Linked DNA regions of Homo sapiens: regions 2, 3 and 4 are each linked to region 1. The links come from fine-mapping of genetic effects on plasma protein levels. A gene starts in region 1. Each other region holds a variant in brackets. All regions are shown on one strand. Distances are from middle to middle.

What was found. PIP is the posterior inclusion probability: the model's chance that the variant is causal. Protein levels are from antibody-based Olink assays in UK Biobank. Linkage for the fine-mapping came from a reference panel and not from the study's own genotypes, which makes the PIPs less certain.
Region 2: its variant is fine-mapped to the plasma level of the MELTF protein (UK Biobank, PIP 0.98). The variant lies in the coding sequence of MELTF. If it changes the protein, the assay may bind it differently, which can mimic a change of level.
Region 3: its variant is fine-mapped to the plasma level of the MELTF protein (UK Biobank, PIP above 0.99).
Region 4: its variant is fine-mapped to the plasma level of the MELTF protein (UK Biobank, PIP above 0.99).

What each region holds. Positions count from the first base shown.
Region 1 is chr3:197,027,364-197,032,556 of GRCh38, forward strand. MELTF (melanotransferrin) reads right to left here and starts at 2,454. Exons shown (of 16, transcript NM_005929.6): 1 at 2,291-2,454; 2 at 393-547. The coding sequence starts at 2,339. RefSeq lists silencers at 1,717-1,896, 2,087-2,136, 2,187-2,676 and enhancers at 2,210-2,846, 2,847-3,483, 3,871-5,070, 4,175-4,469.
Region 2 is chr3:197,013,503-197,018,695 of GRCh38, forward strand. It overlaps MELTF (melanotransferrin), which reads right to left. Exons shown (of 16, transcript NM_005929.6): 7 at 3,601-3,788; 8 at 2,687-2,867; 9 at 1,863-2,014. Among named protein-coding and RNA genes, the nearest start is that of MELTF-AS1, 13 kb to the left of the region's middle. The variant G/GC (reference allele first, on the strand shown) is at 2,738.
Region 3 is chr3:196,930,199-196,935,383 of GRCh38, forward strand. It overlaps SENP5 (SUMO specific peptidase 5), which reads left to right. Exons shown (of 10, transcript NM_152699.5): 10 at 615-4,516. The coding sequence ends at 725. Among named protein-coding and RNA genes, the nearest start is that of NCBP2-AS1, 7.1 kb to the right of the region's middle. The variant ATTTTTTTTTTTTT/A (reference allele first, on the strand shown) is at 2,530.
Region 4 is chr3:196,961,311-196,966,503 of GRCh38, forward strand. All of the region lies in intron 1 of PIGZ (phosphatidylinositol glycan anchor biosynthesis class Z (Gwada blood group)), which reads right to left. Among named protein-coding and RNA genes, the nearest start is that of PIGZ, 4.9 kb to the right of the region's middle. The variant G/A (reference allele first, on the strand shown) is at 3,101.

The DNA of each region.
Region 1 (5,193 bases):
ACCTGGGAGTCCAGCCCCTGCTCCTCCTTCCCCAGAAACCACACAAGCCCCATTCTGGAGAGCCCCATGGCAAGATGAGCAAGTAACCGCCTGCGGCCACTGAGGGGCCGCCACCATCTGGGCCCCCTTGGCAGGGGCCTTGTGGAAGGGAAGCCTCTCAGGTGCCTTTCTTTGCTGGCGCCCTCTGAGCAGCGGGTCCTCCTGAGGCTCCCACCTCCTGGCCTGGGCCCGGCGGGAGGCAAGCTGGCCTCGTGGCCAGGGAGACTCGGGAGATCCTATCGGCCGGGCCTGGCAGGGCGAGGTCGGCTCCTTTCCTGGTGAATGGGGCTGTTGTGTGCTCCCTCCTGAGTCACAGCCCTCTTGTCTGGCAGGGTGGAAGGGAGAGGACTCACCGCGATGAGCTGGACGCAGTGGTCGGCGGAGGTGCCCCGGACGCAGAGGAGGGAGGGCTGGATGCCCGCTTCCCGGAAGGCCTCGCTCATGTTGCCGCACTTGTGCTGCTCTGGGTCCGAGGTGGCGCACCACCGCACCTCCATGCCACCGAGCACTGCGGGCAGGGGACCGTGAGGCCCGGCTCCCCCGCCCTGCCCAGCCCCGGCCCACCATGGAGGGTGGCTCCAGCAGTTCTGTGTGAGCCCATTCGCCTGGACAGCCAGTCCTCTAGGGCAGCCCTGCCCTCCCACAGGGAGGCACTAGGCGCAGAGACAGGGGAAGGGCTGGTATTCCTGTGCTCAGGGCCTCTCTGACCAGGAGCACGGCTGCTGGCAAATGGAATGGCTCAGAACCCGGCCCTTTATGGAGGAATGGGAGGGTCTACAGGTCGCTTCTCAGCTACCCCCACCTGGTGGGAGCACTGGCTAGGGAGTCTCGGCAGGCCCTGGAAGTGGAAGCTTCTTCCCCTCTCCAGGCCTCCCGAAGAGGGTGCTCGTGTAGGTTCCCTCACCCAGCAGTGTCCCTGGGCCTTCCTCATGAACTGGGACGGGAGAGTGAGGTGAGGGGGCTGTGGGTGGGCTGCCCTCCAGGAGCCCTGTCCCCTCGGGGAGTGTCTGCGATGATGCTGGCTGCAAAGCCACCCTCGGTGGGCACAGTGCCAGGCCCTGCCAAGGGAAGACGGCAGGCACAGAGGGGAGGCTGAGGACCCATCAGGGTAGGTTCAAGCCTCTCTGAGCCTGCTTCATCTTCTGAGAGAGCAGATAAAAACCCCACCTTCTGTGTTGAAAGTAAACCCCCTTGTAGAGAGCCTGAGACACCCACATCCTCAGTGGACTTCTGCTTATGCCTCAGGATCTGACCGGGTCAGAGTCCCCGAGAGCTCCCAGGCTAGGGGCCCAGAGGAAGGGGTGCTGGAGCCCCTTGGGGCCGATGACTTTCAGGCCTGAGCTCCTCTGCCATTCACCCTGCCCCAGCCAGCACTGCCAGAGGCCTGTGCAGGAGGGAGGGAAACGCATGACTCCGCCCGAAACCAGGTCACCCTCCCGTGGCAGCCCCACCAGCCCAAGGGCCGAGACTGAAGCTTCCGCCACAGCCCTCCCCTCCCCACTCCTGGCGGAGGCCTGGGAAGTCGAACTGCCCTCCCCTCCGCAGCGCTCCAAGCCCCCCACCACCCAGGCGGGAAACTGCAAAGTTCAGACGGGGCGGGGGTGGCGGTGGCTTCATCGTTTGCATTGATGAGTGCGTCGCCTGCGGCCACAGCGGTGCCACGAACTCCATCCCCTCGGCGGTCGCCGCCCGCGATCCCCGCGAGCCGCTCCCCGAGGTCCCGCCTCCCGTCCCACCATCCCGGGCCCTGACTCCCCGGGGCGCCGACGCGAGGGGACCCGGCCTCCGTCTCCACCTCCATCCCTGCATGTGCCAGAAACCCCCGGGCGGACTCCCGCGCCTGCCGGTCAGTCCCTCTGAATCTTCTCCCGCGGGGGCTCGGGAGAAAGAGCTGCTCCGAGCCCCCAAAGTCTTCCTGAGTTCCTGCGCCCGTCGGGAGGGGCCGCCCTCCGGGAGCTCCTCTCCACACCCCGAGGCCTCCCCACCACGCCTCAGCCCGCGCTTCTCCTTGGAGCGTCGGAAGCCTCGGGTGTTCGAGGCCGCCTCCTCCAAGAAGCCTTCCAGACTTCCCCGTCTGCGCTTCAGTGCTAGTTCCCTCCGCCGTCCTCACTCGACCCCGAGCCCCTGCCTCCCCCGTCTCACTGCCCCGGAGCCGCAGGCTCAGGCACATTTCCAGCCCCGGGACCTGCTCAGCCGGGCCGCGGCGCCCCGGGACCCCCGCCCGCCTTTGGCTCTCACAGCGGGGCCTCACCGGTGCGCAGAGCCAGGAGCAGCCACAGAGCCCCGCTCGGACCCCGCATGGCGCCGTCGGGGCTGGCTGGGGCCGGGCTGGGGCTGGGTCCGGGTCCGAGGAGGTCCGCAGCAGCCGGGCTTCCTCCCTGCTCCCCCTCGCGCTGGCCCGAGCTCCTTAAGTGCGGCCGCGAGTTCCCGGGCGGAATCCACGCCCCTGGGGCGCAGGTCACCTCCCGCCGACCCCGGACCCCGCCCCTGGGCGGCCCCGGCGCGCCCCCTGCTGGAGGCCTCCCGCTCGGGCCCGGGCGCCGCTGCTCGGGGCTCTCGCCTCAGCCTCCTACCCCGCGTTCCAGGGTATCCTCCCCTCCTCGCGCCCTAGAAAGACTCCAGATACCGTGTCTAACTGGAGAGAGAAAAGCTCAGACGTGGAAGGAAGGAGAGGTCAGAATCCCAGAGTCGGGGCTGGAGGGCAGCTGGAGGATGATCTCATTCACGCAGCAGCTCCCTCCCAGCACAGCTGCACAGAGGATCTGGGATACGGGGGAGCCCAGGCCGAGCGCCCTGGCGAGGGGGGAGCCGGGCAGGGGCATCTCGGCCACAGCTGCACAGAGGATCTGGGATACGGGGGAGCCCAGGCCGAGCGCCCTGGCGAGGGGGGAGCCGGGCAGGGGCATCTCGGCCACAGCTGCACAGAGGATCTGGGATACGGGGGAGCCCAGGCCGAGCGCCCTGGCGAGGGGGGAGCCGGGCAGGGGCATCTCGGCCACAGCTGCACAGAGGATCTGGGATACGGGGGAGCCCAGGCCGAGCGCCCTGGCGAGGGGGGAGCCGGGCAGGGGCATCTCGGCCTAGCCGACTGCCTCTCCTCGGGCCTAGAGACGGGAGGTGACTTGCCCGAGTCAGGCATCCAGTCAGTGGCAGAGCCAGCTGATTGGAAGGTGAGAAGAGGACCAGAGAGGAATTGGAGGAAGCGGAAAAGGAGAAACAGGCGGAGAAGGGGAGGAAGAGAGTGAAGAAGGTGAGGGAGGAAAGGGTGGGTTGACCGTATTTCTAGGACAGTGGTTCTCAGTGTGGTCCCTAGGCCAGCAACGTGAGCATCACCCTGGAACTTGCTGGAAATGCAAGTGCTCAGGCCCCACCTCCGACCCACTGGATCGACAGCTCTGGGGGCGGGGCCCACAATCTGTTTTTATTTCGGGGCACAGCAAATGTTGAGAACCACTGTCGCAGGCGGGCAAAAGCGGCACTCCCCATGTGGTTGGGGATGCGGGGAATGAACTGAAGACATTGTTAGTCACCTGCCTCCATTTAGGCCTCACCTTTATGTCATCAGCCCCTCTGAGACTCAGAAATGATGTCTCTCTCTGACATGGGTAAGTACAACAGTGAGAGAGAAGACATCCCTCTGAGTTTGTCTGTCCTTGAGCTTGCTCTGCGCCCTGGGGAAGGAAGGCCTCCCTCCTATGGGGCCATGAAGCTACTGCTTATCACACACTGGATCAGGGGAAGGAACATGGGCTGGGCTTCAGGAGACTCGAGCTCTACTTTTTAAAAACCAGCGACTTACAGACCCTGGGCGAGTTCGTCGCCCTCTCTGGGCTTGTTCCCCACATGTAAAAGGTAGGTCATGATGGCCGTGACGTGCCATACTTTCCGTCTCCTGTCTGCTCTGGAGGACTTGTGCTGTGGAAGCTGTTTCTCCATCCCCCCAGATGGATCCCTTCTTCCTAGTTTGCACAAAGGTGCCGAATGGACTAGCAGGCAGCCTTGCTAGAGGGGCTGATGGCTTGTCCTAAGAAGATGGAATAAATAGAAGAGTCCTTAACAAGCCTCGTTCTCCTGACCACGAGGATAGAAAGGCTCAGTTGGCACACTCCAGGAGCCACCAGATGACTGGCAGGATCTGTTTGATGACTAAGTCCTTCCTTTGGCAAAACTCCACGTGACGCTGATAGGGAGTGAGAACAACCATAACCTAAGAGGTTTGCTGGGCTCTTTCACAATGAAGTTCTTCCCTTATCTCTTGGGTGTCATTCAGCTGTGACTCATCAGTGAACTTGCTGCCTCTGGGTTCTCAGGGATTCTACATCGGGCCCGTTGGCCCAGGGTTGGCATGAACGCGCATCACCTTTGTGGAATGGGGAAGTCTGCCTCAGCTTGAGCCAGGATTCTGCCATTTCTGGGGTCCGGACATACTTGGGTGTGCCAGAGAAATGGGTGGGATGTAATGAGAGAGTAATAAGCCAGTAGTTTAACCCACAAACAGCCTTCTGGAGGAGCAGAAGCTGAGGTTAGTTTGGTCCCCATTCTAGACTCATATTGAGATTAGAGGGAGAGCATACAGACTAAAGGAACTGGTTTCACTGACACTTCGATCAGATTCTGGGGCCTAAGCAGCTCTGCCTGAGTCTCCCTGACCCTACCCCATAATATGAAATAAAAAGAGCTCTTCTCCACTCTTGCCAAAGACACAGCTCTGGCTCTCCAAGGATTCAGAGTGCCCAGAAGCATTGAGCTTGCTTGTCAGGGAATCGAGGAACAGTACATCCCATGGAGGGAATACACTACAGGCAGCCTCAGAAAGTGGGGGCCTTTGACAGGAGACTGAGAAGGTCCATCAGCAGGTAGTGGCTAATGAGCCAGCAAAGGGTGAAATCCTTTACCCAAAACGAAGTAAAATATTGTACTTAGGAAAAAATATTTTTCAACAAATCATAATTTCTGTCTGTCTATTTCTATGGCCCGCAATGTCTTTAAGAACAAGCCAAATAGTTTTTATTCTGGGGAACCCTTGGAAGGCTGGTGTGCCCTGAGAAAGTTTGGGTGTGAGCACCTGCAGTAGTGTGATGTCAGAGGATGTTACGCTCTTGCTGACTGGTTGGGGTGTCAGCACCTGCAGTCGTGTGATGTCAGAAGATTTTA
Region 2 (5,193 bases), 14 kb before region 1:
AGCAATAATAAGCAAAGGGAATTGTATCAAACAAACAAGTTTCTGCACAGCAGAGAAAACAACGAACAGAGTGAAATGAAGACAGCCTATGGAATGAGAGAAAATATTTGCAAACTACTCATCCAACAGGGGATTAATATCCAGAATACACATGCAACGGAAACATCTCAACAGCAGAAAACCATCCAACTTAAAAACGGGCAAATGATCAGAACAGACGTTTCTCAAAAGAAGACATACAAAATGCCAGCAGCCATCACTGATCATCAGGGAAATGCAAATCAAAGCCACAGTGAGGTATCAGCTCACCCCAGTTAGGGTGGCTGTTATCAAAAAGATAAAAAATAACAAATGCTAGTGAGGATGCAGAATAAAGGAAACTCTTACACACCGTTGCTGGGGATGTAAACCCGGACAGCCGCTATGGAAAACAGTACGGAAGTCCCTCCACAAACTACAAATCGAACTATTGAATACCATATGGTCCAGTAATCCCACCACTGGGAATCTGTCCAAAGGAAAGGCAATCAGCCTGTGGAAGGGATGCCCGCACCCCATGTTTATCGCAGCACTGGCCACAATAGCCAGGATGTGGAATCAACCCAGGTGTCCAACAACAGAGGATGGATAGAGAAAATGTCATTGGCATGCACCGTGGAATACTATTTAGCCATAAAAAAGAATGAAATCCTGTCACTGGCAGCAACACGGACGGAACTGGGGGACACCGTGTTATGTGAAATAAGCCAGGCACAGCAAGTTAAACACCATATGTTCCACTCATATGTGGAAGCTAAAAAAAGTTGATCTCACAGAAGTAAAAAGTAGAACAGAGGATGCTGCAGACTGGGAAGGGTAGGGGAAGGGAGGAATAGGGAGAGTTTTTTTTTTTTTTTTTTTTTTTGAGACAGTCTCTCTCTTGTCGCCCAGGCTGGAGTGCAATGGTGTGATCTCGGCTCCCTGCAACCTCCACCTCCCGGGTCCAAGCGATTCTCCTGCCTCAGCCTCCCAAGTAGTTGGGATTACAACTGTGTGCCACCATGCTCGGCTAATTTTTTTGTACTTTTAGTAGAAACAGAGTTTCACCATGTTGGCCAGGCTGGTCTTGAACTCCTAACCTCAAGTGATCCACCCACCTTGGCCTCCCAAAGTGCTGGGATTATAGGTGTGAGCCAATGCACCCAGCCAGGAGAGATAGGAGGAATAAGCTCCAGTGTTCTATAGACTGTAGGATGACTAGAGTTAACAATAATACATAGTTTCAAACAGGTAGGACGATATTGCATGTTCTCCACACGGAGAAATGAGCAATGTTTGAGATGATGGTATGTTAATTATTATCCTGCTCTGATCACCATGTATTCTATGTATCAAAACATCAGTATGTATCTCATGAATATGCACAATTATTATTTGTCTATTTAGAAAAATCAGGAAAAAAGAAAAAAAAAGTCGAACAATGATCCACGCCCACTCTCTATTGCACAAGGGAAGGCTGAGATTCAGAAAGGGGAAGGGGCTTGCCCCAGGCTACAGGGCGTCAGTGCCCAGCTGGGCCAGCGCTTCTTCTGCTCCTGGCACCCCCACTTAGTGAGGAGCTCCCAGGCTCTCCAGGGGACTCACCCCTATCTGCCTGTCCCCTGGGGTGGGTGCTGGCCCCTGCGGTCGCTCCTCCCCGCCTGTCTCTGTCCCCTGGGGTGGGTGCTGGCCCCTGCGGTCGCTCCTCCCCACCCGTCTCTGTGGGCTTGTTGCAGTAGACACTCTCCTCTTCCCCAGGCAGCAGGGGGTGTGGGTAGTAAGAACTGCCCAGGCACTGCCACCACCCGCCCACCTGGCCCACGCTGCACCTGCGTGACTCCCACCTGGATCCGCTCCATGCAGTGTTGGGGGGACTTGGCTGACACGCACTGGATCTCTGGCTTGAGCCGCTGCCGGCGGAAGGCCACGGCCATGTCTCCACACTTCTGGATCTCGGGAGTGGAGAGCACACACCAGCGCAGGTAGGGGGGCAGCCCTGGGGTGGGGCAAGCAAGCGGTCACTGCCAGGCCAGTACTGCCATGGAAGAGCATGGAGTCGGACCCAAGGGAAATTCTGGGCCTTTCTCCTGTCAGGTGTGTGGCTGGGATAAGTTATTTAACCATCGGATCCCACTTCCTCACACAGAAAAGGGGCAACTGTGAGGCCTGAGGAAGACCATGGCTGGCGTGCATGTAACTCAGTGTGTGGTACCCACTTCCCTGGCTGGAGGTGGAAGATACATGGGGCCAGGGGGCTAAAGGCAAGAAGCTCACTTGTAGACTACTGCAATAGTCCAGGCGAAAGATGGCACCTGCGCCAGGGCTGTAGCCATGGGGTAGAGGCGGGGAGTAGGAGCGAGAGGCTGTAGAAGAGCTGACAGGATGCCATGGCCGTGGATGGGGGGGCGAGGAGACCCTTCCCAAGACAGATTCTGATGGTCTGCATCCTCCCCCGCTGCGGCCAGGTGGGGCTTCCGAGGTACAACAGGCCATACAGTGGAAGAGATGCCTCCTCCCCAAAGCCCCAGGGGCAGAGGAATGGAAATGACAGGTTCCCGCAGAGGCCTCCCTGGTGAGCGTCTTCCCCCGGCCACTTTCCCAGAGAGCCTCGCCATGCCCGAGGTTGAGCTGGGCTGGAGCTGGCAGCAGTGGGGACAGGTGGACTTACGGTTGGGGTCACAGAGCAGACCCTTCATGGCGTGCAGGTACTCATGGCCCA[G/GC]CCACGCCTCATAGGTCTGTGTGGCGATGGGCACAAGCTCCGAGGTAGAGTCTTTGAAGAGTAGATCCTTCTGGCCATAGGCCTCAGAGCTGAACATCTGGAAGCTGCTGCCCTCGTGGCTGAACAGACGCTGTGTGTCAAGGGGTGTGGTACAGGGTGGTGAGGGTGCTGACAGGCCATATCCTTCCCTCCCACTTTGGCCCCTACCTCCTTCTTCCCCGACCTCAGACCAGGCACCCACCCTGAGGGCCAGGTGAGGCCTCCCTCTTCTGCGGCGCCTCCCCTGATCTGCGGCCTCCTTCCCCTGGGCCCTGTCAGTTCTGGGTCTACTCTGAGTTCATTTGGCCTCCTCACACTCAGCTGTTTGGACACATGGCTGTGGCCAGGCATGGGACGGTCCTGAGGACACGCCGTGGGGCTGGTGGTAGCAGCCTGGATAGGGCAAAACTAACTGAGCCTGGGGCACCAGCAGTCAGAAGTCTATTGCTGTCACAAGCGGCGGTTTTAGCCAAACCTTATTCGCCACATGTAATTAATGGTGTGCTTTGAAAGGCGCTGGTTTTGTTACTTGGTTTATTTGCTCATATGTTTTGGTTTTAGCTCTCAGAGACACAAGTCTCAGGAGCTTCTTCTGAGGGTGCCTGAATCCCTGGGTCCCCCTCCTCTGGGCCCCCCTCTCCTGGCCAGCCCTCCTTCTGGCCAGCCAGCATAGTCGGTTCCTCACTCTGACCTGGCCCGATGCTGGGGTCCGTCCCAAGGACAGTCTCTGGGTCCTGCCCCTCCTGGTCCCACCCTGCTGAGCGACCACAAGGCCCGGCACCATCTAGGAAGCTGTGCAGGTGGTTGGGGGACCCTGAGCCCACCTGGCCTTCGTTGAGCAGCCGGAAGATGAGGCCCCCATCTGTGTCGGCCCGGACCACCACGGCGTGAGCAGGCACCCGGGCCAGATGGCACTGCCTCCACTCGGTGACATCGGCCCGGCTACCATCCCGGCACAGCAGCTCGAAGTCCTGTGACAGCAGGGCCTGGCCCCAGGAGGGAAGCGTCTTCCCTGGGAAGCAGGAAGCCTGGGCTGAGCCAGCTCCGAAAGGGGTTGGGGCGGGTGGCGGGGAAGGCCCAGGAGAGGGAATCTGAGGGGTGGCTGGGTGTCATGGACATGAGAACCCAGCATTCAGAAGGTGGCAGAGCTTGGTGGCCGCACCCAACTCCAGGTACCTACACAGACTCTATCTCGTTACTCTCATTTTCTAGCTCTCACCAATTTCTATTGCTAAAGTGAATTGGAGGTATCTGACAGTAATACAATACTTATAAATAACTATTCAAGATAAAAAAAGTAAGAAAATAAGAAAGGCTGGCCGGGCGTGGTGGCTCACGCCTGTAATCCCAGCACTTTGGGAGGCCGAGGTGGGCGGATCACGAGGTCAGGAGATCAAGACCATCCTGGCTAACACGGTGAAACCCCATCTCTACTAAAAATACAAAAAATTAGCTGGGCGTGGTGGCGGGCGCCTGTAATCCCAGCTACTGGGGAGGCTGAGGCAGGAGAATGGTGTGAACCTGGGAGGCGGAGCTTGCAGTGAGCCGAGATCACGCCACTGCACTCCAGCCTGGGCGACAGAGCGAAACTCTGTCTCAAAAAAAAAGAAAGGCTTTGGGTGAGACAGATGAATGTACCAAGAGTCTAGGATGAGCTTGCGGCTGCCATGAGGCACTGCGTTTGGCTCTGAGCAGGGGGCAGGGGGCAGGGCTCCCGGAGCAGGGGCCACGGTGGAAACAAACCCCGAAGGAATCTACCCACCCCAGGACTAGAGAGGACGGGGGATCTCCCATAACTCCAACTATTCATATTGCGATGGATTTCTTTCAAGTCCTTTTTTCTATTTTATTTCCTGTCTTTTGACCTCACCCCCCCTTTTTCTTTTTGAGACGGAGTCTGGCCCTTTCGCCCAGGCTGGAGTGCAGTGGCACGATCTCGGCTCACTGCAACCTCCACCTTCCGGGTTCACGCCATTCTCCTGCCTCAGCCTCCCGAGTAGCTGGGACCACAGGTGCCCGCCACCACGCCCGGCTAATTTTTTGTATTTTTTTTTATTAGAGATGGGGTTTTACTGTGTTAGCCAGGATGGTCTTGATCTCCTGACCTCGTGATCCACCCACCTCGGCCTCCCAAAGTGCTGGGATTACAGGCGTGAGCCTCCACACCTGGCCTTTTTTCTCTTTTTGAGATGGAGTCTTACTCTGTCGCTCAGGCTGGAGTGCAGTGGCATGATCTTGGCTCACTGCAACCTCCGCCTCCCAGGTTCAAGTTATTCTTCTGCCTCAGCCTCCCGAGTAGCTCAGATTACAGGTGTGCACCAAGATGCCTGGCTAATTTTTGTATTTTTCCTAGAGATGGGGTTTCACCATGTTGGCCAGGCCGGTCTTGAACCCCTGACCTCATGATCTGCCAGCCT
Region 3 (5,185 bases), 97 kb before region 1:
TTGGAAGACCGGTTCGTTTGTATACCTCATGCATGTTTGGGGTTTTATAAACAAATTCAAGTTCCCATTAAGGGCCATGATGGGTCTAGCTGCACTCCAGCAGGTTGCACTTTGGGAGGAATTGAGGCCTTTTCATCAGTTGCTGCTTTTCACAGTATTGGGTCAGGAGGGAGAGGAGATCCCAAGCCATGCACTAGCTTGGTCAGTCACCTATAATTTGGGTAAATGCTTAAAACAGTGTATTTTTACAGTAGTTTAAACAGACATGAAAATGCTGCCTTAGATCGGGGTCCCAAACCCCTGGGCCACGGACAGATACTGTCCACATTAGGTTCTCTTAGGAGTGTGAACCCTGTTGTGAACTGCAGATGCGAGGGATCTAGGTTGCTCACCCCTTATGAGAATCTAACTAATGCCTGATAATTCATCCTGAAACCAACCCCCTCTCCCCCAAGTCTGTGGAAAAATTGCCTTACACGTAACCAGTCCCTGGTGCCAAAAAGGTTGGGGTCTTCTGCCTTAGACACTATTAGGTCTGCATTTAGTAAAACAGAATGGGCTGGTCCACAACTCCAAGTGCCACTGAAGTGTTTCTGGGACCTTTTTTTTTGCAGTACTGCAAGTGCCTCGCCTTAGAGCAGCCTTTCCAGTTTTCACAAGAAGACATGCCCCGAGTGCGGAAGAGGATTTACAAGGAGCTATGTGAGTGCCGGCTCATGGACTGAAACTCAGCAGGGACTCTGGGAAGTCTGACCAAGTTGGAGCAGATGGTTTGTTACTTGAATCTCCAAACACTTAGTTGAATTTTTACAGATATTTCAGATCAGTGGTGTTGGGCCACTATTGTTACCTCAAATTTATTTTTTGCCCTTATTCATTTCTCCAGCTACCATGTACTATTGTTTAATGTTCAGTTTGGTTTCATTTTTAATTTTATGGTTCTGTGCGTCCCCCATATTTAATATTTATTATTCAAACGCATGCATATAGACAGAGCATGCAGTGAAGAGTATTAAAAAAAAAAGCTTAGTAGATTTGGTGCAGCTTTTGAAACTTAGTTAGACGTGAACTGAATACAGGTTTCAAATTTACTCCCAGAACCTAAAAATGCAAGATGTTTTTGATACAACATAACTCTGAGAATAGTAAGTGTTCCCTGGGGCATTAAGGGTAGCTGGGGGTGGTTTTGACAAATCCAGTCCTGTTTTACTTTACCAGCGGCAACTTTCACCAACTTCCCTCTCCAAGTGAGTCTTAGAGAGTGCAGTCCATTCCTTTTGAAGGGTGAGATGGAAGTGGTCGTAAACTGACTGGTGTCTTCTGTTTCTGGAGGCACACTTGTAAGCACAGTGGCTGCTTTGGGAGGAGTAAGGTGTGAGAAAAAGCAACCTTGGAGGCCAGTAACAATGACAGATTTCAATCGTGGTTTTAGGAATTATAATACGTGGCATACATCTCATAAAGGCTTTTGCTGGGATATTGAATTCCCTGAATTTTTCTGTTTTCGACCTGTTAAAAAAATCTTAACATCCATCAAACTAGTGGTCAAACAAATGAGAATGCAGCTGTTCTCAGAGTAATTTTTAAGTTGTCATTTCCCTGTGTTGCCTCCCAATTGGAAGAAGTTAAGGTTTACCAAATGCATTTCTATTTCAAGGGTATCTGAAACGTAAACATTCAAAACTGAAGGCTGACTGACTTGAGATGTTTTGCAGGTGGCTGGAGAGAAGAGGGAAGGTAATAGAGACAACTTAGTCCCATGGGAGCGCAGCAACCGTGTCAGGTTCTTTCTCCTGTCCCATTAGTGACCTCAGTAACATGCAGGGTACGTCTGGCTTCTGCATGGCCAGTGCTGACACTAGCACAGCTGTTCTTCTCCTTCTGTTGAACCTCATCTTCTGAAGAAAGGCCAAGTGGCCCTTGTCCATACACTTAGCTGCATTAGGATGAATATCACGCGTCTCACATCTTTAATCCAGCCTTTCGTGACATGTTGGAAAGATACATGTGAAACCTACCCAGTTACCCTTTCTGAATTGGGAGGAAAACCAACCAATGTATGTATGAGAAACTCAGAAGTCTGAATAGAAAAACAAAGTAAATGGCAGAAGATTCTCGAGTTTATGCCCGCGTAGGTTTGGAGTGTTGAAAAAGCTAAAATGTTTAGTTTCACTTGGCCCTGAGGTATGGTTGAGAAGGCTGACTGCCAGCAGTTGAGGATTGAGTCCGACCATGTTTACATGCAGGGTTCCCAACACCAGTGGTGACACTGGGAAGCAGCCCCAGCACTTTCCTCTCCTGAGTCCTCCAGACCCAAAATCCTTAATGTCAAACCAGGTCAGTGTTTCTTACTGTGTTTCAAGTCGTTAAAAAGACTGAGAGTAGAGGCACTTTATGCTGCTATAGGTGGGGTTCTGTCAGCGTTAGGAAAAAATGACAGTTTAGGGTAAGGAAGATCTCATAATGAGTTTTTCAAACATAATTATGCAAACATGAGATTTTTCAAAACATGCCAGAAATTTGCCTCTG[ATTTTTTTTTTTTT/A]TTTTTTTTTTTTTTTGTGGGGGTGTGGTATACCAAAGTAGCCAGTCACTGGGCTGTCAGTTCAAAATGTCTTGTACTTCAGAGTGAGGAAGTGTTTCAGTTCCTCAGTGACAGAACCTGGCATGCAGAAGAGACAGAATTGTTCCTGTAAGAAAATCAACGCCGAGAGAGAGCTGCCCAAATCCAGTGACTCTTCCACTTCCAGTCTCATGCTTCATAGGGCACCTTGAGGTGTGCTGCCCAGTGTGGCTTAGACTAAATGTTGAGTTTGGGTTTTTTGTTTTTTTTTTTTTTTGAGTCAGAGTCTCACTGTCCCTCAGGCTGGAGTGCAATGGCGCAATCTTGCCTCACTGCAACCTCCACCTCCCAGGTTCAAGCGATTCTCCTGCCTCAGCCTCCCAAGTAGCTGGGATTACAGGTGTGTGCCACCACGCCCCACCGATTTTTGTACTTTTAGTAGAGACAGGATTTCACCATGTTGGCCAGGCTGGTCTTGAACTCCTGACCTCAAGTGATCTGCCCGCCTGGGCCTCCCAAAGTGCTGGGATTACAGGCGGGAGCCACCGTGCCTGGCCAATGTTAAGTATTTTAAAAGTCATTTTAAAATATTTGTCATTGATGAAACTTGGTTTCAGCACACGTAATTGCTTTCCCTCTCTTCTTGTGATTAGGTGTAAACCTCTATTTAACTCAAGTCCTAGATTAGAATGTCCTTTGTCCTGATGTTTGCAGTAATTGCTTCCTTGGTTAATAAAGATATTTTTGAAATATACTCTGGACTGTTGGTGAAAGAGGCAGGCATGGCTTTACTGGTACTAGTTTGGCACTGAACTGTTTGGGTGCCCATGAGGTAGGCAGACCTTATGCTTTTTTTTTTTGAGACGGAGTCTTGCTCTGTTGCCCAGGCTGGAGTGCAGTGATGTGATCTCGGCTCACTGCAACCCCTGCCTCCCAGGTTCAAGTGATTCTCCTGCCTCAGCTTCCCCAATAGCTGGGACTACAGGTGTGCGCCACCACTCCCAGCTAATTTTTGTATTTTTAGTAGAGACAGGGTTTTGCCATGTTGGTCAGGCTGGTCTCGGAACTCCTGACCTCAGGTGATCCACCCGCCTCTGCCTCACAAAGTGCTGGGATTACAGGCATGAGCTACCGTGCCTGGCCTAAACCTTACGCTTTTGAGGTTGAGTGCAGGCCTTGTGATAACTAAGCGCTACTTTTGACGAGCCTTCAACAAGCTGCCCAGTCCTCTCCTCAGCAGACGCATCAGGTTGTAGTTGCATCTTTACAGTGGTCTTTCCTTTTATTAAATCTATAGCAGTGAATATAGATTTGATTCAACTTTTAGTTACGTTCTCTCAAGAATCCTAATCAACTTTCAGTTAGCCTCTTAAGAAAGGGAAAAAAAGGTGCTGCCAGTCATCCCCAAATTATGTTTTTGGCTGTGCATTCTATTTTCTACATAGCACTGAATCTGAGTAACAGTCATCCTGGATTTATAGTTGGAACAGAACAGTAACAGACCTAACTGGGACTCAGCCAGCACTAGCCTCATCTTAGCTGCCCCTTTTCTCTGCTTTGCAGTTTACTGCTTCCCTGGGCTAGCCATAACGGGGTTCTGGGCAGGTCAGACTCTTCAGCAAGACAGTGTATTAATAGTGTGAATTAGATACACTGATGACCTGCTCTGCCTAGTTAAGAAACTGAATTAATCAGCAGTTACAAAGCACATACTTTGTTACGTGCTAGGCTTTGCCTCCTGGCCTCTAGATAATTAAGACGGCCCAGGGAATACCAGCAGAGAAGTGCTAATTGTATTTGGGTGTTACAAAAGCAGACCTAGACGAGCTGTTCACTTAACTGGTACCTGTTGGTCAGAAAAAGAATTTATTTAGAGATTATGATCATGTAAAATTACAGTACTCAACCCTTCTAGCAAAGTATTTTTTTGAAAAATAAACTAAATGCCTTTATAAACTTGTGTTCTCTCGTCTTGAGTAACATGTACTGTTTGGCGAGGAGTAATTTTTTTCTTGTGACATTCCAGTCACGACAGAGGTCATTTCAGAACAGTGAGCAGTGCAGGCCCTAACCAGCTCACCCTCAGAGCAGCAGCACCATCACTCGAATTTTCTACAACGGAAATGTTCTATATCTTCATCTTAGCTTGACTGAGAAACTGAATGTTTAATTCTCACACTTCACTAACATGTATTAATAGTGATGCCTTCATCTGTACGTTTGAATTTTCACTTTTCTCCGATTAAAGTGAGAAACAGGTCAGATGCTATCCATGAGAAATAGGAAAGAATGGTGCAGTAAAGAGACTCACATTTAGTGTTCTCTAGCCCAGGAAACATAAGATGTTCTTAATCCACCCACAATTTCCCTTCCCTTGCAATCATCCAGAGCATGTTTTTTGGAAAACTAACCTATTCTTCCATCAGTAGAGGTTGCTTGGTGCCTATTTGATCACTTTCACAAGAAAATCTGTGCGCTCTCTTCACACGCAGCAATAGTTATTTCCAACTGTCAGTCAATCAAAATGGACACGCGAATTGTCCACACTATTCATAGAATCCCCCTGGAACTCATTCATGTGTATCCAGAGTACAGGAATTCCAGAACACAACCCTCTTTATAGGC
Region 4 (5,193 bases), 66 kb before region 1:
GGGATTCAGCCTAGAGCTTGATCACCCAACCCTTCCAAAGGTTTTGTAAGCAGCTAATTCCCTATATTAACTCCTTTTTGCATAAAACATTTAGTTGTTTGCAAACAACAACAGCAAAAACAATGCAAGCTGCTTCAACAATTCATCATGTTGCCAGGTGTGGTGGTGCACCCCTGTAGTCCCAGCTCCTTGGGAGGCAGAGGCAGGAGGATTGCTTGACCCCAGGAGTTCAAGGTCAGCCTGGCAACACAGCGAGACCCCCATCTCTTAAAAGAAAAAGCAGGAAACAATTGATCATGTCACATAAAAAAACAACCAGACTTGGTACTGCCAGGGTCCCTTGCCGCTTCTCAGGTCAGCCTTGATGCTGCCTTTCTCTTTGTGTGGACATAATCCTCAGTTCCAGCCATCTCGTCCAGACATGACAAACTGAGAAGTGTCTGTATTTTTGAGGCTATCTCTTTTTAAAACAGGTTTATTGAAATATAATTAATATACCGTATAATTTTAAAGTGTACAATTCAATGGTTTTTGGTATATTCGTAGACAGGTGCAACCATCACCACAGTCAGTTTTACAAATTTTCATCACTCAAGAAGAACCCCATATCATTTAGTTATCACCTCCCATCCTTGTCCACCACCCCAGACTCTGGAAACCACTAATCTTCTTTCTGTCTCTATAGAATTCCCTATCCTGAACTTCCATATGAATGAAATCGTAAGGTCTGTATGGGGAAAAGAAAGAGAGATCAGACTGTTACTGTGTCTATGTAGAAAAAGGAAGACATAAGAAACTCCATTTTGATCTGTACTAAGAAAAATTCTTCTGCTTTGAAATGCTATTAATCTGTAACCCTAGCCCCAACCCTGTGCTCACAGAAACATGCGCTGTATTGACTCAAGGTTAATGGATTTAGGGCTGTGCAGGATGTGCTTTGTTAACAATGTGTTTGAAGGCAGTATGCTTGGTAAAGGTCATCGCCATTCTCCAGTCTTGAGTACCCAGGGACACAATGCACTGTGGAAAGCCATGGGGACCTCTGCCCAAGAAAGCCTGGGTGTTGTCCAGGCTTCCCCACACTGAGACAGCCTGAGATGTGGCCTCGTTGGAAGGGAAAGACCTTACATTATAGTCCCCCAGCCGGACACCCATAAAAGGTCTGTGCTGAGGAGGATTACTGAAAGAGGAAGGCCTCTTTGCAGTTAAGAGGAAAGCATCTGTCTCATGATCCCCTGGGAATGGAATGTCTTGGTGTAAAACCTGATCGTACATTCTATTTACTGAGATAGGAGAAAACCGCCCTATGGCTGGAGGTGAGACATGCTGGTGGCAATACTGATCTTTACTGCACGGCAATACTGATCTTTACTGCACTGAGATGTTTATGTAAAGTTAAACATAAATCTAGCCTACGTGCACATTCAGGCATAGCACCTTTCCTTAAACTTATTTATGACACAGAGTCTTTTGTTCACATGTTTTCCTGTTGACCCTCTCTCCACCATTACCCTATAGTCCTGCCACATCCCCCTCACTGAGATAGTAGAGATAATGATCAATAAATACTGAGGGAATTCAGAAACCAGTGCCGGTGCAGGTCCTCACTTGCTGAGTGCCGGTCCCCTGGGCCCACTTTTCTTCCTCTATGCTTTACCTCTGTGTCTTATTTCTTTTCTCAGTCTCTCGTCTCCACCTTGCGAGAAATACCCACAGGTGTGGAGGGGCAGGCCCCCTTCAGTCTCTGGAGGCCTTTGTGGCTGGCTTCTTTCACTTAGCAGAATGTTTTCGTGGTTCGTCCGTGTTGTAGCAGGTATCACTACGTCCTTACTTTTTATGGCCAAGTGATATCCCATTGTGTGGATATACCATATTTTGTGTGCCCATTCATCCATTGATGAACCTCTGAGTTGTTTCCATGTTTTGGCTATTGTAAACAGTGCTACTATAAACTTTTGTGTACAAGTTTATTCGTGGACATATGTCTTCATTTCTCTTGGTATATACGTAAAGTCCCTGCATCCTATGGTAACTTTATGTTTAATCATTTGGGGAAACTTCCAGGTTGTTTTCCAAAGTGGCTGTATCATTTTACATTCCCACCAGAAATGTATGACGGTTCTAACCAACACTTGTTATCTGACTTTTGGGTTCCATCCATCTCAGTGGGTGTGAAGTGGTATCTCATTGTGGTTTTGATTTGCACCTGCATTTCTCTTTAAGATCAAGGAAATCTTTTCCAGAAGTTCACCAGCAGACTTTCTATCAAGTGCTGTTGAACAGAACTGCATCAAATACACCTTCCCAAACCAGTCACTGGCAAGGGAAATGAGATTACTGATGAAGACTCACCTCCTGGGTTGGAGCTGGCACTGTGGGAGCTTACCCTAACAACAGGTTCTGTTAGGAAGGAGGAAGGAGGCAGAGGATCAGCTAGCTGTGTGGCTGCTACACGTGGCTTCCACGGGCTCTCACAGCTTTCCTCCTCCTCAGGCCATTTGTTCTTAGGCTTCTCTTCCTCTGTCCACCCCTTAAATGTCAATGTTCCTGGTCTTCAATGTCCTCCATATACACTCTTTTGGATCATCTCATTTATTCTCATGGTTTCCATTTCTACTTGATGCCTTCTGAAATTGCTTCTTTTCTGAGCTTCGGATTTACTGATAATAATAAGGAATAGTATAACAATAATAATAGCACTACCTTTTTTTATTTGTTTGCTTTTATTTTTATTTTTATTTATTTATTTATTTATTTTGAGACGGAGTCTCACTCTGTCGCCCAGGCTGGAGTGCAGTGGTGCAATCTCAGCTCACTGCAAGCTCCACCTCCCGGGTTCACGCCATTCTCCTACCTCAGCCTCCCAAGTAGCTGGGACTACAGGCGACTGCCACCAGGCCGGCTAATTTTTTGCATTTTTAGTAGAGACGAGGTTTCACCATGTTAGCCAGGATGGTCTCGATCTCCTGACCTCGTGATCCGCCCACCTCGGCCTCCCAAAGTGCTGGGATTACAGGCATGAGCCACCGTGCCCGGCCTAGCACTACCATTTTTTTTTAATTTTTTTGAGATGGAGTCTTGCTTGTCGCCTAGGCTAGGT[G/A]CAGTGGCACGATCTTGGCTCACTGCAACCTTTGTCTCCCAGGTTCAAGCGATTCTTCTGCCTCAGCCTCCTAAGTAGCTGGGACTACAGGCACGCATCACCACGCCTGGCTAATTTTTGTATTTTTAGTAGAGATGGGGTTTCACCATCTTGGCCAGGCTGGTCTCAAACTCCTACCTCATGACCCACCTGCCTCGGCCTCCCAAAGTGCTGGGATTACAGGCGTGTGCCACCGTGCCCAGTCTAGCACTGCCATTTATTAGATACATATTACCTTCCAGGCTTTGTACCTTATCTTATTTAATTATGGGAAGTCTATAACCCTATCCTTTTTTTTGTTTTTTAAGACAGGGTCTCACTCTGTCACCCAGGCTGGAGCGCAGTGGCATGATCTCAGCTCATTGCAACCTCTGCCTCCCAGGCTCTAGCAATCCTCCCACCTCAGCCTCTATGAACCTATTCTTATCCCTGTCTTACACACAAATGAACAGGCTTTTTGCAAAAGGTAACGGAACTACTAAGTTGGTGGAGCTGGAAGATGGACCCGGTCTGTTTGACTCCACTGCCCTGCTCCACTGCCCGTTAGGCTTCTGTACCTGCTTCAAACACAGGGCAGCCCAAAAGAACTCATCACCTTCCCTGGAATGAGCCCTGTCCCCATGCTCCCTACAGCAATGAGGAAACTACCATGTATTAGTGTCCCACACTCCTGGTACCAATTTACTGTGTTAATCTATTCTCACACTGCTATAAAGAACTGCCCAAGACTGGGCAATTTCTAAATAAAAGAGGTTTCATTGACTCACAGTTCTACATTGCTGGGGAAGTTTCAGGAAACTTACAGTCATAGCGGAAGGGGAAGCAGGCACCTCTTCACAAGGTGGCAAGAGAGAGTGTGAGTGGAGGAAATGACGGACGCTTATGGAACCATCAGATCTCATGAGAACTCCCTAACTATCCGAAGAACAGCGTGGGGGAAACCACCCCATGATCCGATCCTCTCCCACCGGGTCTTTCCCTCAACACTTGGGGATTACAATTCAAGATGAGATTGGGGCGGGGACACAAAAGCCTAACCATGTCATACCATTTGCCCAATTTAGTCCAGAATCCCACGGGCTATCTCCCTCCTCCTTTGTCCCTGCACTACGTAATGCCAACGTTGCTTGCTAATTATTCCTTGAACCCAGCTCTTGTTCCTCATTCTCCACTGTCATTGTCTGAGTCCAGGTATGCTGTGACTGGTGTGCATGTACCTGGGATTTCTTAGCCTTAGGGGTGGCTGGCTGTGCAGAATCTTTGGATGGCTGGAGGCCCTGGGTTGGTTGTTTCTGTTTGCAAACAGCCCCCTCCTTTGTTAACCAGTGTGTCATATAACAGCAATCATTTTCTGTGGATGAATAATGAGGGAGATGGTAAGAAGCATGACCTGGAGTAGACTGCACCGCCATCCGCCTCTCCACTTTCCCTCTCTCACTGCATCCTTCCTTCTGACTGCGGCAGAGACAGGCCGAATCACTCCCCTGTGAGAAACCTCTGGATGGGGGGCCATCCCCTCACCACCCTGAGGACCAGGTCCACATTCCTTACTGTGGCTGACAAGGCCCTCCATAGCTTCCAGTGTCCCCTTCCCGCCTCCACTCCTGTGTTCGTGAGTAGAATTCGGTGCTCCAGAAACATCACGCCTTTCTGCAGCCCTCTCCTCTATTCCGTGCTGTTTCTCACCCCAGCTTCTTGGCTCACACGGTTTCACTTACCCAATACGCTAATAACATGGAGGTTAAGACCAGCGGTGGCATCAGGTAACCCGGTTCAAGTCGTTGCTCTCTGTCACTTGTTCATGGTGAAAGCACTCAATCTCTCTGAACCCCAATTTATACCTCAGCTTTAAAACAAGTACCTATCTCAGGGCTGTTGTGAAGATGAAATGAAGAAAATATGCAGACATAAGTGGTTGCTTTCTTTATCCATCTTGCTTAACTGCCCTAACCCCCAAGAAGTCTTCCCTAACCCTCCTTCTGAAGGACCCTGTGCAAAACTCTGCAGGCGCCATGCGCTGACTGTTGTCTGATTATTTCTCTGCCCTGCTTGGC